Linked DNA regions of Homo sapiens. The protein of the gene in region 2 purifies or fractionates together with the protein of the main gene of each other region. This does not show direct contact. Each region holds a gene or a part of one and is shown on either strand. Other genes may lie near its edges.

Region 1 (3,648 bases), on a different chromosome or scaffold from region 2:
TGAGATCATGCCACTGCACTGCAGCCTAGGTGACAAAGAAAGACCCTGTCTCAAAAACAAACAAGAAAAACTTCCAAGTCATAAAAATTAAGGAACTCGTAGCAGTTCTTTTAATTATATTTTTCTTCAGTTGATCTACTCTCTTAACCTGTCCTAACTAATGAAAATGAAATGTCTCTATATATTTAAACTTTTTTCTTAACTCTCTAGTTCAAGAATTTGATTTTTTTCCCATCAAGACCCCGATGCACTGAGAAGAATAACACAATGCATGTAAAGAACTTTAACAGGGACCAGACAAGGGCAGTGGGGGAGGGAATTCTTTTTAAGAATGATCTTAAGCATTTTTATTTTGCTATCTTTTAAATTCAATACAATGCATGGCCACCACATGTAAGGTATGAAACTTGATTATTAGATCCCAAAAACAGATTATCAAGAACATTTTGGGTACAGTTAGGGAAATCTGAATATGGACAGGAGAGAAATGGTATTAAGTGACAAAAGGGAGAAGGCAGCAGAGAGGGAAAATATAAATGCTATTCAGTGAGACTTGAGCTGTAAAGTAAATGTTCAGGACATCTCTGCCCTTCAGCTGGCCAAGGACACCAAGTAGCAAACTGGCATCTACTGGTCAGTGCGCTTTGAAATCCTCGTTACGTGTTCTTTCCACACAGAGAAATAGCTTACCTGCTTTTTTTGTGTTTTGATTCCTAGTATTACTTCTCATGGAAATCTTAAGATCAACATGTCAGTGAGGAAATCACCTAGAATTTAGACATTTTCTTTGGAACTTTGGCTGGTCTGTATCATTATTTTGAAAATCTCCTTGATGTTTACAAGCTACCTGACTACTTTATCTTTTATTCTTTAATGATTAGGGTGACCTAGTTCCACATGGCCTGAAGGTAACATTGGCAGTAATGTGACTAGGTACATGTAGACTTGAAATTAAACTCAGCATAAATAAGAGTTCTCTCTCTCCCTCCTTTTATACCTCTTATTGTTTCAAATTCTCTATCCTTTCTAAGTTAAAAGTACTAAAATTGCATTCTTTTTCTGTTAAACAGGCTGCTTCCTTGGGATTACTACAGTTTCCTATCCTTAACGCTTCTGTGGATGAAAACTGCCAGAATATAACATATAAGGTTGGCTATGCAGAGTAAAAATGTTCTTATTATTAATAGAAGATGGGGCAAATGTGCTTGTAGATTAGAGACTTCTATTGTACCTCAAATAGTGATCTTTTTTAGACTAGAATTAAAGGTATGGGGTAAAACATTAAACTTAAGTCTAATTCATTGTTGTTGTTTTTGTGTTAATAATACTGTTTAGAGATTCTTAAAACTATTTTTAAGCTTTTTTTTTTCCTGCTTAAAATAATGGAAATACATAGCTGTATGGCAGATTATGTTACCCACTCTACTTACCCTCTCAAAAAGAAGCAGCTCTTTCAAAATTGAATTCCTGGAATTTTAATATTATTATTCTTATTCTTCTTCTTCTTCTTCTTCTTATTATTATTATTATTATTGGCAGAGTCTCACTCTGTCACCAGTTTGGAATGCAGTGTTGTGATTGTGGCTCACTGCAGCCTCAACCTCTCAGGCCCAAGCAATCCTTCTGCCCCAGCCTCCTGTGTAGCTGGGACTATAGGCATGCGCCACTATGCCCAACTAATTTTTAAATTTTTTGTAGAGACGTGGTCTCATTATGTTGCCCAGGCTGGTCTTGAACTTCTGGTCTAAGCAATCCTCCTGCCTCAGCCTCCCAAAGTGCTGGGATTACAGGCATGAACCACTGTGCCTGGCAAATTCCTGGAATTTTAATATTAAGAATAATTTAAGTGAGAAAAATAATAAAAGTTTGAATTCAATTTGAGTAAACTCTTCTGTGAGTAGTGAAAGTTTCTTAAGACCGAAAACTCTTTTTGAGATGCCTTTCCTGAAGTTTACTTATCATTAGAAGTGCACAACCAGAGGCTGGGCACGGTGGCTCACGCCTATAATCCCAGCACTTTGGGAGGCTGAGGCGGGTGGATCATGTGAGGTCAGGAGTTTGAGACCAGCCTGGCCAACATGGTGAAACCCTGTCTCTACTAAAAATACAAAAATTAGCCAGCCGTGGTGGCCAGCGCCTATAGTCCCAACTACTCAGGAGGCTGAGGTGGGAGAATTGCTTGAACCCAGGAGGCGGAGGTTGCAGTGAGCCAAGATTGTGCCACTGCACTCCAGCGTGGGCGACAAGAGCAAAACTCCATTTCAAAAAGAGAATTAAAAAAAGAAAAAAAAGAAAAGACATGTACAACCAGAAAGTGAGCTTAGATATTCTGGGAGGTCAGCTCCCATACGGTTAATACAGTCAGCTGTATTAATTTTAATTTTAATATCTCCTGATTAAGTATATACTTATTAAAAAAATTTCAGGCAAGAAAATGATGTTGGCCGGGTGTGGTGGCTCCTGCCTGTAATCCCAGCACTTTGGGGGACAGAGGTAGGAGGATGGCTTGAGCCTAGGAATTCAAGACCAGCATGGGCAACAAAGTTAGGAGGCCCCATCTCTACAGAAAAAAAAAATTAGCCAGGCATGGTGGTGCATGCCTATAGTTTTAGCTGCTTGGGAGGCTGAGGCAGGAGAATCATATGATACCTGGGAGATGGAGGTTGCAGTGAGTTGTGATCATGCCACTGCACTCCAGCCTAGGTGACAAAGTGAAACCCTGCCTTTGTCAAAAAAAAAAAAAGAAAAGAAAAGAAAAGAAAAAAGAAAACAAAGATGTTTACCCTCAATTCCATGACCCTAAGATAGCTCACTGTTTATGTTGAGATATACATCTTTCTAGGATTTCATTTTTACATACTTTTTACAAGATATAGAATTATTTATATTTTCTTTAACTTGCTTTTTTCTTTTTCTTTTTTTTTTTTTTTTGATACAGAGTCTTGCTCTGTTGCCTATCTAAAGTATTCCCCATAGAGAATATCTATGCTGTGGTGTAATCATCGCCTCACTGCAGTGTCCACCTCCCACCGCAGCCTTCTGAGTAGCTGGGACTATAGGCACGTGCCACCATGCCCAGCTAATTTTTGTACTTTTTTTTTTTTTTTGTAGAAATGGGGTCTTGCCATGTTGCCCAGGCTGGTCTCTAACTCCTGGGCTCAAGTGATCCACCCACCTCAGCCTCCCAAAGTGCTGGGTTACAGGCATGAGCCACTGTGCCCAGCCTCTTCATTTTCATTTACTATATTGTAGACATCATTGTCAACAAGTATAGCTTTGTTATTTATTTAGCCAGTGACCTATTTATAAACATCATGATTATTTGCAGTTTCTCAAACTTATAAACAGTGTGTACTCAACATCCCTGTGTATCCCTACATACTTCTGCACTTAGTTCCTTAACACGAATTTTTATAAATGTTGGTTCATGTTGTCATATGTTCTCCAGAAAGTCTCTACAGTTTAAGTATCCGTTACCTGAAATGCTTGGGACCAGAAGCGTTTTTGGATTTAAGATTTTTTTGGATTATGGAATATTTGCATATACAAAGGAGATATCTTGAGGACAGGACTCAAGTGCAAACATGAAATTCACTTATGTTTCATTTACCCCTCATACACATAGCCTAAAGGTAATTTTATACAATA
Region 2 (3,648 bases):
CCACGAGAGGTCGGAGCTGGAGATTCGAGGAAGAAGCCATAGCTGCCTCCTGGGGCTGTGCTTCTCACCAGTGGGGACCCCTGTGATTTCTTTTCCTGCCTGGGACCCTGGCTTCTGCACCTGGACTTGCACCTTCGGCCCCCACACCTGGGGGCTAGCAGCTTCCTGCGGTGGCTGGCCTTCGGGTTGCTTCACTGGTCCTGAGTCCTGGCTTCTTACCTTCCCCTCTGAGTCCCACCGTCCTGATGAGTGCACAGAATTCTGTCTGCTTTAGACACTCGGAGAGACTTCCATTTCCCATGGGCCTTGACTGCAGAAGATTCAGAGTGATTTGGCGCAGGTTCTGAAGTGCTGATCGGAAGAGCCCAGCATAGATTTAGCGTTGCTAGAACCATGTTGTCTTTCCAGGTAGTGACCAAACATGCTGACCTGGAAGTAAGTCCCCGTGTGGCTGAGAGCCACGTGTGTGGAGCGTGTTGCCTGTGGGCTGTGCCCCTGCCGCGCTCCACAGTCCTTCACCTGCATGCTGAGGCTTTTTGCCCTGTGCTCTTTCCCAGGAATGTTTTGACCGAGTCTGCGAGGATCGCCCGTGGCAAAATCACAGACCTGGCCAACCTCAGTGCAGCCAACCATGATGCTGCCATCTTTCCAGGAGGCTTTGGAGCGGCTAAAAACCTGTGCGTATTTGAGCTCCAAGGTCTTCCGCTTTCCATGTGGAGCAGATGGGAAGGGGGTGCACCTGTCTGCTGTCCAATGTGGTCAGTGGAGCGGCGATGGGAGGGGGTGGTGATAGGAGCAGTCTCTGGGTTTAGGGTCTGGGCAGGGCACGTGCCTGCCCTCTGACTTGGGAGCTGTTCTTAGGGTTGGGTCTTAGGTAGCGTTGTAGCGAGCCATGCTTTTGTTTCTGCTTCTCTGCTGCCTCTTCTCTCAGCATTCCTGGTACCCAGCAGCTTGTCAGAGTGGGTTTGGGGCTCCCTCTTATCTCATCACTGTGCTGTAGGTCTCGTCACGTTGAAATCAGTCTCTGAGTATTTACTCCTTGCAAGTGCCAGTTTTTTTTCTCTCTCTCTCTCTTTTTTTTTTTTTTTTTCTGTAGAGATGAGGTCTTGGTCTGTTGCCCAGGCAGGGATGCAGTGGCACGATCCTAGTTCACTGCAGCCATGATCTCCTGGGCTCAAGCCATCCTCCAGCCTCATCCTCCTGAGTAGCCGAGACTATAGGCGCATGTCACCATGCCCATGGTTTTGTTTTTTTTTTTTTTTGGCCATGTATGTAGCCCAAATTGGTCTGGAACTTCTGGGCTCGAGTAACCCTCCTGCCTCCCAAAGTGCTGGGATTCCAGGCCTGAGCCACCGCGCCTGGCCCCAATTCTCTTATGGAACCTTGCAGGATCAGAAATGGGTTTCCTTCTTGGTAGTTTGGGCGGCGGTCCTGACAGGAAGAAGGGAGGCCGCCTTGGCGTGGCTGTTTTGGTAGCTGGACCGTGAATCATGGAGGCCTGGCTGGCTCCCACACGGTGGCGTCCTTGAGTTCCAGATCCTCTTTCTGTTCTCTGTGTCTCCTCTCTCTCTTTGCACATTCATGGAGGTTCTCTGGGCACCGCCCCCATGGCCCTGCCTGAGAGGTGGAGGTGGTGCCAGGCTGACCCTCCAGGGACAGCTCTGCCACCTGCAGGAGCACTGGCCACAGTGCATCGGAGCGTGCAGGTGGCTTCTGTGCCATGGTGTGGGTGGCAGCCCCAGCACGGCCGGCCCCGGTCGGCAGCTCCTGTTTCAAGGGCAGGTTGGAGGCTGGCTGGCCGCTTGCCCCACCCTGGGCAGCCTGCACCCAGAGTCGAGGGGTAGGCAGTCTCCATCCGAAGAATGCGCCCCTCCTTATCCCGAAACCTCAGAGGCCTCCTTCCTCAGATGCCAGCTGTTTTCTCAGTGCCCTTGGCCGTGCCCTCACCCCTCTCTCACCGGAAGCCCCACCCCAGCCTGTCGTCCCCGGTCTCCTGAAAGCCAGCAAGCCTCGTCGGTGCCGCCCACACCCCTGACCTCACGCAGCCCCACGTCAGGCTCGATCTTTTGTCCAGTTGTCCCTGCGTCGCTGCCGTCTCCACGAGGCTCTGACCACTGACACCGTGTGTGGCGGGGCGCAGGGGCAGCTGGAGGGTGTGCTGGGGGCTCCGTGCCCTGGCATGGCTCCTCCACATTTTGCCAACCCAGAGGCACAGGCGTGAGGTGTGTGGTGGTTCTCAGGGTCAGTGGGTCTTGGCCTTGGCTTTCAAGGTGTTGATGGGCCCTGGGACTGATGTGCCCGTGTGTCTGAGCCCACGTCCCCTGGGCGAAGCTCCCATTTTCACTGACCTGTCCAGAGCGTTCTGGGTGAGCCTGCCCTGCGTGTCCATGGTGCGGCGCGCTCTAATGAGCTGCAGCCGTGGCCACTCTGCACCCTCTGAGACAGTCACCCATGGGGACGGCGAACACCCACTGCCTCCAGAAGATTCCCAGCACTCTGCCAGCAAAGCCATGTGGAAAATGCTGGGGCAGAGGACTGGGGTGCGTGAGGGTGGCGTAGAGCCCAGGGGTGGGTTCGTGGGAAGGTGTGTCCACTTGTAGATTTGGTGGCATTGCCAGATCACACGCCCCATGGGCAGTGTGGAGAGACCTCCCCTGCCCCGCGTGCCCTCCACAGCTCCTGCTCCTCGGCCTGAGGTGTGGATGCTGGTGTCGCAGGTAAACTGGCGTTTCTTTCACGGTCATCGAAGCAAGAGTGCTTGGTATGCCTGGAGGCCGACTGCGTTTCTTTTTTTGGGAACTCCTGGAGTTTCCTGCTGCCCCTTTGTTTTAAGGAAAAACTCTCACACCGTGTTTCTCCTCCTCCCACCACAACAGTTGTCCACACAGAAGGTGGGTGTGAAGGGTCTTCCCCATGCACCACGCAGGGGTCGCTGCTGCCTTCTAATTCAGTTCCAACAGTATGGACCCGGGGTAGCGTCCGATCGCACGGGTTGAGGGCTCCGTCCCCAAAACTGCCCTCTGACACATACCGGTAAACTGTCTGAGCCTCTGGAACTGACCAATTGGCTTCAAGTTGGGGTTCCCACAACCCCGTTTGCTGGCGTGGCTCACAGTGCTCAGGGAAACATGACGTCAGCATTCTCCCCCGGGGAGTGGGGGACCCTCTCAGGAGAGGGTCCTGAGACCCACAGTCAGAAAGGCGGGGAACATTAGAGTCCTGCTTTGGGGCAGGTAAAGGGCAGGCGGGAAGGTCAGAGGCTGCCCGAGGCCCGACACAGCCAACGTCGTAACAGAAAGCTAACAAGCAGCACGGGAGTTAGGAGCCGGAAACCAGCGTCTGAGTCTCAGCACCGCAGCCCGGGTTCTGCCAGCTGCTCCGGAAGGTTCCAGGGCGTGGGCCCTCTCGCCCTGGTGGCCTCCTGCTGCACCACTTCCTGATCCTCCTGCTTCCTATGCTTATTTCTGTTTAAAAAACAGGAAAATATGTTCACATCAAACGCGCATATGTGCAGCCATGCCCATGTCCCTTGCTGCAGCTGACTGAGGGTCTGGAGCTGTGCCTAGGAAGCCCCCCAGGAATAGACCCTGGTTGTGAGGCTGTCTGAGGAGGCCTTTTGTCTCCCGGTAGGAGCACGTTTGCCGTGGA
Region 3 (3,648 bases), on a different chromosome or scaffold from region 2:
GGAGGCCAGAAGTCCCAAATCAAGGTGTCAGCAGGATTGGTTCCTTCTGAGGCCTCTGGGAGAATCTGTCCTATGCCTCTCTGCTGGGGTCTGGTGGTGGCCAGCAGTCCTTGGCATTGCCTGGCTTGTAGATGCATCTCTCCAGTCTTTGCCTCCGTTTTCCCAGGGCCACCTTTTCTGTGTCTCTGTGTCTTCACTTGGCCATCTTTTGTTTTTGTTTTTTTTAGACAGAGTCTTGCTCTGTCGCCCAGGCTGGAGTACAGTGGCATGATCTCGGCTCACTGCAAGCTCCACCTCCCAGGTTCAAGTGATTCTCCCACCTCAGCCTCCCGAGTAGCTGGGACTACAGGCGTGTGCCACCACGACCGGCTAATTTTTTGTATTTTTAGTAGAGATGGGGTTTCACTGTGTTAGCCAGGATGGTCTCGATCTCCTGACCTCATGATCTGCCCGCCTCGGCCTCCCAAAGTGCTGTGATTACAAGCGTGAGCCACTGCGCCCGGCTGGCCATCTTTTTTTAAGGTCACCAGTCGTATGGGATTAGGGGCCCACCCTATTCCAGTATGGCTTCATCTTAACTAATGATATCTGCAATGACGCTGTTTCCAAATAAGGTCACATTCTGAGGTGCTGGGTTTTAATCCTTCAACATATATTTTTAGGAGGACACAATTCAACCCATAACATTCACATAACATAAAATTTACCTTAAGAGAAATTTTTTGCTACTCTGTGTCAGTGTTCTTTAAAGAGAAAAGTGCTGGCCGGGCATGATGGCTGACACCTGTAATCTCAGCACTTTGGGAGGCTGAGGTGGGTGGATCACAAGGTCAGGAGTTCGAAACCAGCCTGACCAACATGGTGAAACGCTGTCTCTACTAAAAATACAAAAATTAGCCGGGCGTGGTGGTGGGCTCCTGTAATCCCAGCTACTCAGGAGGCTGAGGCAGGAGAATCGCTTGAACCCAGGAGGTGGAGGTTGCAGTGAGCCGAGATCATGCCACTGCACTCCAGCCTGGGCAACAAAGCAAGACTCCATCTCAAACAAAAAAAGAGAAAAGTGCTGAAAGGAGTTCACCTGGATGTTGGCAGGTTGCTGCTGGAGCCAAGGAAGTAGTCATCTTTGGAGCTGCCTCAGAGCTCTTCACCAAGAAGAACATCAATTGTTCCATAGAGGAGAGTTTTCAGAGGTTTGACGCAATCCTGAAGGCAGCGCAGTCAGCCAATATTTCTGTGCGGGGGTGAGTCAGAGCACATTGGTATCCTTTCCTCTGTACCGTTCTGGAATGGGGCTAGACTCTGACTCAAGTGGTCCTCCTGCCACAAACTTCTTATCCTGGGTGGGGGCAGCCTGAGCTCCACACCTAGACATCTTTTCCCAAATAAGTGTGGTCAGAAGAAATCCTAGGAAGTACTTTCTCTCAAACCTGAATTTTGGGTCAGTTTACCAGCTAGCCATGATAGCATGCGCCTGTAGTCCTAGCAACTTGGGAGACTGAGGCAGAGGATGGCTTGAGACCAGGAGTTTGAGGCTGCAGTGAGCCATGATAGCACCACTGCTATCATGCTAAAGGAATCTAGCAGGACAGGACACTAACGGGTTTGTGGAGGTCAGTTGAGTCCTGGCTTTATCACTAGCTCTTCACACATCCCTGGAGAATTACCTAGGCTTCTATGTTTCCAACATCACATCTCTAATATCAGTGGTTCCAGGCATTGTGTGTGTATTATCTATAATAATTGAAACCTCACAATAGCCCAGCAGGGAGTAGGTTATCCTCACTTTATAAATTACAAAACCGAGGCCCAGGAAGGGCGAATACTCTACTGTAAGGTCACACTGCTGTGCAAATTGCAGCCAGAGGCCGGGCATGGTGGCTCACACCTGTAATCCCAGCACTTTGGGAGGACAAGGCAGGTGGATCACCTGAGGTCAAGAGTTCAAGACCAGCCTGGCCGACATGGTGAAACCCCATCTCTACTAAAAATACAAAAATTAGCTGGGCGTGGTAGTGGATAGAAACCCCGTCTTTACTAAAAATACAAAAATTAGCTGTAATTCCATCTACTTGGGAGGCTGAGGCAGGAGAATCACTTGAATCTGGGAGGCGGAGGTTGTGGTGAGCCGAGATCACACCACTGTACTCCGGCCTGGGTGACAGAGCAAAACTCCATCTCAAAAAAAAAAAAAAAAAAAAAAAAACATTGCAGCCAGAATGATCGTTGAAAAGTGCACATCTGGGCTGAACATGGTGGCTCATGCCTGTAATCCCAGCACTTTGGGAGGCCGAGGCGGGCAGATCACCTGAGGTAAGGAGTTTGAAACCAGCCTGGCCAACATGGGGAAACCCCATCTCTACTAAAAATACAAAAATTAGCCGGGCGTAGTGGCATGCACCTGTAATCCCAGCTACTCAGGAGGCTGAGGCGGGAGAATCACTTGAACCCAGGAGGCAGAGGTTGCAGTGAGCCAAGATCACGCCACTGCACTCCAGCCTAGGTGACAGAGTGAGACTCTGTCTCAAAAACAAAAACCAAAAAAACCCCACAAAAGTGCACATCTGATCACATCCCTCCTGGTTAAAAAGCTTTCAGTGACTAATCAAGTGCAGACTTTTTAATGAGGTTTACAAACCCTGCATGATTTGGTCCCGGCTCTTTTCTGTAGCCGTACCGTTCAAGTTCCCTTCTGGCCCCTGCTTCCTCTTCATGGTACACTCCAGCCCAACTGGAACTTCTTTCTGTTTGTCACATGCCTCCACTCTTGCCTCTGGGCCTTTGCACGTGCTCTCTCTAGACTCAGAACAACCTTCCTTGGGAGGCCAAGGTGGGCAGGTTGCTTCAGCCCAGGAGTTTGTGACTGGCTTGGGCCTGGGCAACATGGTGAAACCCCAGCTCTACAAAAAAAAAGCCAGGTGTGGTTGCATGTGCCTGTAGTCCCAGCTACTCAGGAGGCTAAGGTGGGAAGATCACCTGAGCCTGGGAGGTCCAAGCTGAAGTGAGCCAAAATCATGCCACTGCACACCAGCATGGGTGAAAGAGTAAGACTCTGTCTCCAAAAAATAAAGAACACTTCCTCCACATCATGCTTCTCGGGGATAACTCCTGCTCATCCTTCAGGTCTTCTTGTGGGAGTCAGTTCCTCTGAGAAGCTGCTCCAGTCCTTCAGCTGGAGTTAGTGCCCTTCTCTGGGACCCCATGGTGTCGGGACATCCTCTAAATGTAGCACTTAGCTGCTTGTTAAATTCCCTCCCTGCCCCACCCCACTAGACCGTGCACTCCATGAGGGCAAAGCCCACATCTCTCCCAGTCCCTGGGGTGCTCCACTCTCCCAGCTTGGGGCCTAGCCACAGTGGGCACTCAGTCACTGACGGGCAGGTGGATGAATGGGGAAGCAGGTGCTCCAGTAACATTGGCCCAACTCCCAGATCTGTGTCTTTCTAAGCATCTCTCTTACCTTTTTCTTGCTCAGCAGTGGTTGGAGAATAAGTGGGAGCATCAAAATGGAAAAGTACACTGAGATCTTTGAGTCTGAAATTATTTATCTGTTGAACATTTATTATGCCTCTTAATATGCAGAATTTGCTTGACTCTAAAGGGTTTTAAAGACAGCTCCCAAAAGGGCAGGTGGGAATAGAAGTCACCTAC

The links.
Region 1: the proteins of GATD3 (region 2) and DBT purify together in Homo sapiens (affinity purification with mass spectrometry; 2 studies listed by BioGRID and IntAct, with this or other methods). This does not show direct contact.
Region 3: the proteins of GATD3 (region 2) and HMGCL fractionate together in Homo sapiens (co-fractionation; one large-scale study listed by BioGRID). This does not show direct contact.

What each region holds. Positions count from the first base shown.
Region 1 is NC_000001.11:100,208,194-100,211,841, reverse strand, and holds part of DBT (lipoamide acyltransferase component of branched-chain alpha-keto acid dehydrogenase complex, mitochondrial isoform 1 precursor), read left to right. Parts: intron 1-717; exon of another isoform or gene 718-802; intron 803-1,070; coding exon 1,071-1,148; exon of another isoform or gene 1,149-1,149; intron 1,150-3,648. UniProt on the Homo sapiens protein: The branched-chain alpha-keto dehydrogenase complex catalyzes the overall conversion of alpha-keto acids to acyl-CoA and CO(2).
Region 2 is NC_000021.9:44,136,620-44,140,267, forward strand, and holds part of GATD3 (glutamine amidotransferase-like class 1 domain-containing protein 3, mitochondrial isoform 1 precursor), read left to right. Parts: intron 1-557; coding exon 558-677; intron 678-3,630; coding exon 3,631-3,648.
Region 3 is NC_000001.11:23,811,783-23,815,430, reverse strand, and holds part of HMGCL (hydroxymethylglutaryl-CoA lyase, mitochondrial isoform 1 precursor), read left to right. Parts: intron 1-1,092; coding exon 1,093-1,241; intron 1,242-3,648. UniProt on the Homo sapiens protein: Mitochondrial 3-hydroxy-3-methylglutaryl-CoA lyase that catalyzes a cation-dependent cleavage of (S)-3-hydroxy-3-methylglutaryl-CoA into acetyl-CoA and acetoacetate, a key step in ketogenesis. Terminal step in leucine catabolism.